Regions from separate parts of the Homo sapiens genome. Here region 2 is reported to be linked to region 1. Evidence: microRNA targets listed by miRTarBase, many of them from high-throughput screens and not tested one by one. Region 1 holds a microRNA gene; the other region holds the end of a gene's coding sequence.
The links. The annotated mature microRNA hsa-miR-6499-3p reads AGCAGUGUUUGUUUUGCCCACA and lies in region 1 at 1,413-1,434, shown strand. An mRNA with a match to its seed (bases 2 to 7 or 8) in the 3' UTR can be bound and repressed. Matches are read on the target gene's strand: a 7mer-m8 pairs with bases 2 to 8, a 7mer-A1 pairs with bases 2 to 7 and ends in A, and an 8mer does both.

Region 2: the mRNA of LIPH is a reported target of hsa-miR-6499-3p. Seed matches in the 3' UTR shown: 7mer-A1 at 1,577-1,583, 7mer-A1 at 1,756-1,762 and 7mer-A1 at 2,296-2,302.

What each region holds. Positions count from the first base shown.
Region 1 is chr5:151,520,402-151,523,521 of GRCh38, reverse strand. It overlaps MIR6499 (microRNA 6499), which reads left to right and starts at 1,374; the gene lies at 1,374-1,435. FAT2 (FAT atypical cadherin 2) reads left to right here. Exons shown (of 24, transcript NM_001447.3): 19 at 1,436-2,246. It also overlaps a transcript of SLC36A1 not described here. RefSeq lists an enhancer at 1,369-1,538.
Region 2 is chr3:185,505,952-185,509,071 of GRCh38, reverse strand. It overlaps LIPH (lipase H), which reads left to right. Exons shown (of 10, transcript NM_139248.3): 10 at 195-2,810. The coding sequence ends at 282. Among named protein-coding and RNA genes, the nearest start is that of TMEM41A-DT, 8.4 kb to the right of the region's middle.

The sequences.
Region 1 (3,120 bases):
CACAGGCTATAGACACAGATAGGTATTCAGATTCTGCTCAGGCCTTATCTGCTGCTGTATGACCTTGGGCAAGTTACTTCACCTCTTTGAGCCTCAGTTATATTTTTTGTAGGATGGGTGACTTGATAGTACCTATCTCATAAGAAGGATAAACTAGGATAATGTATTTACAGCATTATCATAGTTTATCTATGATAATGACTAGCATTGTACTCAGTTAATGTTAGCTATGTATTATATATAATCGGTAGTAGTAGTATTGTTGTAACTAATGTTAGCTATACATTATAATTAACAGTAGTGTTAATTATTATTGTTGCTATTAATATCTCTTCGGTGTTATGCATGACTTCCAGCAGTAGGTGTAATCTTATCAACTTTCTTGTACATTAAAAGTGTTGGAGTGCAGGTGAACAAGATATTACTACAGGGAAAATTGTGGAGACCCTCGTTGACAGCTGAGGAAGTGATAACATCACTGAGGAGAAGAAGGCAAGCCTGTCCTTTCTAAGTCAGGCAGGAAGTTGCAGGGATGTGTGGTGAAACATGAAAGGAAAATGCGTTTATGATTTACATTCTTTTCCCTACTTAAGTGAGGTCCTGTCACCCTCACGGCTTTTCACAGTTCTGACATTAACTGCAACCCTGCGCGTGCCAGCCCATCAGTGAGGTCAGGCCTGCTTCCCTGCCCACTTGCTCCAGCACCAGTGACCCCGTCTGTGCTGTTGAACACACCGCCTTCATTCCTACCCCAGGACCTTACACTTGCTGCTCCCTCTGTCTGTCGCCTCTTCTTCTCATCCCTCAGGACTCAAATGTCACTCCACAGAGACTCCTTCTCTTCTACCTGATCAAAGTTAGGTCTCTGTTTATTTCCTTCCCAGCATTTTATCCAAGTTATTTGGTAACTTATTTATTGTCTCTTTTCTCCTGGCCACAGCAGAAGACTTCGTTGACTGACTAGAAGGACAAATCCCGACTCCCACTCCAATCGCATAGCAAAAGGGAATCCCAAGGGGAATTTTCGTAGGCTGAGCAGGGTGCATGGTGCATCAGAATTGCTGAGACATCTGAGGGCGCCCTTGAGGACAGGGACAGAATGAGAAACTTCATGAGGAAGTTAGCCCAAGTCTATGGCTGGAGAGATTTAGGAAGAGGCTCAGAGAGATGTCACATGAGGAAACTGCATTGTTTTACTGCATGGTATAGGATGTAACTCCCTCCTTCAATCTCTACAAAACCTTCAGAAAATCTTTCTTTTCTGTCAGTGCTTTTGGAGTTAGGTTTTTTTTTTCTAAATGCAACAATGCGCTGAGCCAGCCCTCAAGTTGGGCGTGGGGCAGAGAAACGTAGCTCCACAAGGAGGCCCAGCCTCAGTCGGGCGCAAGAGCACTGCAGTTCTGTTGGGTGACAGCAGTGTTTGTTTTGCCCACAGGCGTCAGACAGTGGCATCCCTCCCCTCTCGTCTTTGACGTCTGTCCGTGTCCATGTCACAGAGCAGAGCCACTATGCACCTTCTGCTCTCCCACTGGAGATCTTCATCACTGTTGGAGAGGATGAGTTCCAGGGTGGCATGGTGGGTAAGATCCATGCCACAGACCGAGACCCCCAGGACACGCTGACCTATAGCCTGGCAGAAGAGGAGACCCTGGGCAGGCACTTCTCAGTGGGTGCGCCTGATGGCAAGATTATCGCCGCCCAGGGCCTGCCTCGTGGCCACTACTCGTTCAACGTCACGGTCAGCGATGGGACCTTCACCACGACTGCTGGGGTCCATGTGTACGTGTGGCATGTGGGGCAGGAGGCTCTGCAGCAGGCCATGTGGATGGGCTTCTACCAGCTCACCCCCGAGGAGCTGGTGAGTGACCACTGGCGGAACCTGCAGAGGTTCCTCAGCCATAAGCTGGACATCAAACGGGCTAACATTCACTTGGCCAGCCTCCAGCCTGCAGAGGCCGTGGCTGGTGTGGATGTGCTCCTGGTCTTTGAGGGGCATTCTGGAACCTTCTACGAGTTTCAGGAGCTAGCATCCATCATCACTCACTCAGCCAAGGAGATGGAGCATTCAGTGGGGGTTCAGATGCGGTCAGCTATGCCCATGGTGCCCTGCCAGGGGCCAACCTGCCAGGGTCAAATCTGCCATAACACAGTGCATCTGGACCCCAAGGTTGGGCCCACGTACAGCACCGCCAGGCTCAGCATCCTAACCCCGCGGCACCACCTGCAGAGGAGCTGCTCCTGCAATGGTAAGTACTACATCTTCCCTAGGGACGAGCAGCACTGCTGGGCTCAGCCCGCCTGACTCTAAGCATGGAGATTCCACTGAGGCTCTGTGGGAGAGTTCAGGGAAGTTTTAATAAGCCCAAAGGCCACCAATCACCATAAGACGGCTAGTGGCCTCACAAAATCTAGTTATGGAATAATACCCAATTCTCAGCTCCCTTTCGAGATTTAGAAAATAACAGTAAGACTACAATATGTGGTTTAACATCATGGCTAAGAGCATAGGCTGTGGCTTCAGTCTTCATGGGTTAAAATCCCAGCTCTACCCCTTACTAACCAGGCGACTTTAGGAAAATTAACCTCTCTGTGCCTTTGAGCTGGGCTGCTGTAGGAATTACATCAGTACTATGTATCAAGTGCTTGCTTAGAACAGTGCCTGACATATAGAAAGTGGTCAATACATGTGAGTTACTAATACTGCTACTATTATTACCATAGTCTGGTGGTTATAAGCTCAAGGCTTAGACTCAGACAGCTCAGGTTCAAACCCTAGCTCCATCAGTCACTAGCTGTGTAACTTTGGGTGTATTGTTAAAACCCTCTGAGCTTTTTAGTTTCCCATCTATAAAATAGTCAAAATAAATACATCTGCCTCCTGGAGTTGGGTTCGGGGGGGAAATTACGTAAGAGTTATAAAAGCACTTAACCCATGGCTGGCCCACAATAAGCCCCAGATCAACGGTGACTGTCATTCCCGTGGTAGCAGTTGCTATAGGGAGCCTGCTGTACGCCACACTCTGTGTAGATGTCACCTAAACTAATCGGCACCACAGCCCTACCAAGCAGGGTCATTAGCCCCATCTGCAGTTGGAACTGAGATATGAGATTTAGTTTGCC
Region 2 (3,120 bases), not on the chromosome of region 1:
TATCTGCCCGCCTCGGCCTCTTAAAATGCTGGGTGGGATTACAGGCATGAGTCACCGTGCCTGGCCACCGTAAGTGTTTTCTATATTAAAAACAATTGCTAAATAATTTTGTATCTTAAGGATATAATATTATTTACTAGACCATTGCATTTTTATAAATTCATTTACAAGGATATTTTGTCTTATTTTCCCAGGCCTCAGCTGTGTCGGTATGATCTTGTCCTGATGGAAAACGTTGAAACAGTCTTCCAACCTATTCTTTGCCCAGAGTTGCAGTTGTAACTGTTGCCAGGACACATGGCCATAAATAATAGAAAGAAAGCTACAACCACAGGCTGTTTGAAAGCTTCACCTCACCTTTCTGCAAGGCAGAAAAAGTATGAAAAAAACCAAGGCTTTTTTCAGTAGCGTCCTATGGATGTCACATTGTACATCAAACAACCTTGTGATTATAAAACGATCCTGGGAAGGAGCCCCTAACTAGGGCAAGTCAGAAATAGCCAGGCTCGCAGCAGCGCAGCGCTGTGTCTGCTGTGTCCTGGGGCCTCCCTTGTTCCGACCTGTCAATTCTGCTGCCTGTCACGCGGGTGGTTCTGCCCATCGCGGCTGCGGGTCAAGCATCTTCAAGGGAAGGACGGACTGGAGGCCTCACCGTGGACTCAACTCTGCATTCTCCGTGCCACATTCCTCCAGTTCCCACACGTAGAAGGGAACGAAACTGACGTCTACCTCATGGGGCTGCTGTGTGGGTTTGGGAGGCAAAAATCTATGAAGGGTTTTTTGAAATCCCATAGGTGCCACATCTATGAGATGTTTGATAAATGTGAATATGCTTTTACATTTGGGCTTATCTAATTTGCAATAAGAGAGCCTCTCTCTATCAACACCAGCTTCTCTCTCGGGCTGTTTGCTCAGGGAAGGCAAGAAAGCCACGTGCTGGCCCTCTGCCTTCTCTAAAGTGCTGTTGGAGCATGGAGGAGCTGGAGGAGATGGGGATGGACTGACAGCTAAGAGGGCGGCTGCTGGGACTAGATAGTGGATGAAGAAAGAAGGACGAGGAAGCCGTGGGGCAGCCTCTTCACATGGGGACAGGGGATGGAGCATGAGGCAAGGGAAGGAAAAGCAGAGCTTATTTTTCACCTAAGGTGGAGAAGGATCACTTTACAGGCAACGCTCATTTTAAGCAACCCTTAAGAAATGTTTATGTTTCTTTATTACCAATGTAATCTATGATTATTGAAGGAAATTTAGAAAATGCGTAGATACAAAATTAAAAAAAAATACTGTCCACGATCCTATTAGAGGTAATTAATGTTAGCCTTTTGGAACAAGGCTGTCACCTATTTTGCCAACACGTGAATTCAAAACATGAACCGGTTTGCTTTTGGAGAATCTGAAGACTCCAGTTTGAGGAATCCTTTGCTTCCCTGGAGGTAGATGCTGTCTGCAAATCTAGAATGACAGCAGGAGTCCAGTCAAGAGGTCCTGTCAGGCCAAGGCCAGAAAGAAGGGAGGACAATCCCTGGGGCCAGATGCCCAGTGTGAGGGGAGGCATGATCTGTCCCATGGCTGTGGCCACTGCAGGAAGGTCTGTGAAAAGGAGGTGACAGGCCCAGTCACCTCCTCTTCACCCAAGTGATTGCTCCTTCAACTGCTATCTGTGAAAATAGCCTTTGTTATGAAGAAATTGACTCTCTCTCTCTTTTTTTTTTTTTGGAGTTGCCTAGGCTGGAGTGCAATGGTACGATCTCAGCTCACTGCAACCTCCACCTCCCAGGTTCAATTGATTCTCCTGCCTCAGCCTCCTGAGTAGCTGGGATTACAGGCATGTGCCACCACACCCGGCTAATTTTTGTATTTTTATTAGAGACAGGGTTTCACCACGTTAGCCAGGCTCGTCTCGAACTCCTGTCCTCAGGTGACTACCCGTCTCGGCCTCCCAAAGTGCTGGGATTACAGGCATGAGCCACCACACCCGGCCAAAAATGGATTCTCTATGTCATAAATTAAAGAAATCTATAAATGTATTCCTGTGTGGCACATCTTCTTACAGATTTACATTTGCAGCAAATACAGAGTCTGTTTTATTTAAGTGAGGGATGACTGAACTCTGAGTGGAACAAGCTCTTGGACATGTTACCATCCTTCCTCCTCCTTCTCACATTTCCTCAGCAATTGTGGATAGAGAGATCAGTGTGCTGTAGGCCCTGGTTTTTTTTTTTTTTTTTTTTTTTTTTTTTTAGATGGAGTCTCCTTCTGTTACCCAGGCTGGAGTGCAGTGGCACGATCTTGGCTCACTGCAACCTCTGCCTCCCGGGTTCAAGCAATTCTCTGCCTCAGCCTCCCAAGTAGCTGGGATTACAGGCGCCCCCACCATGCCTGGCTAATTTTTGTATTTTTAGTAGAGACCTGGTTTCACCATCTTGGCCTTGAACTCCTGACCTTGTGATCCACTGGCCTTGGCCTCTCAAAGTTCTGGGATTACAGGTGTGAGCCATCGTACCCGGCAGCCCTGGTTTCTTCTTAGTTTTATTGGTCTGTGTTTTGATCAGCACAGTCACTTTTTTGTTCTCTTTCCTGGTAAGCAGGGAGTCAAAACAATAGCAAGAAAATGCCAGAAATAGAATTTCTACTACTTTGTAAACTCTAGGCTCGTGGGTCTCCTAGCTCTCAGTACCTGGCTCACTGTAGGATGGGTAGATGGGTGAATGAATGGATAAAGAAAGGAAGTTTGTTCACCGGAGAGGAGATGAATTTCAGTAAGTTTCATGTAACAGTGATCAGGAGAAATAAAGGCAGTTATAACTGTGGCCACTCTGTTCTCAGAATCTTTCTTCCAAGGGCCCCTGGAACTTTTGACTGTCTCTTGTTATCCTTGCTTCTCTTCCCCTCTCTTTCTCAGTACCATATATCTGTCTGAGTGCCAAATTCAAAGCACAATTAAATTACAGTCTACCCTCTTCCCTCCCCTCTTCACTGGTGACCTCCTACTCATCATTTGGATCGTGGCTCAATTGCCACCTCCTCAGGGAGTCTTCTTGGACCTTATTTCCATACAGAGAGGTTCCACACTGTACCTCTCCTTCATAGCACTTTTTAGTTGTATTTTTAAACATTTTT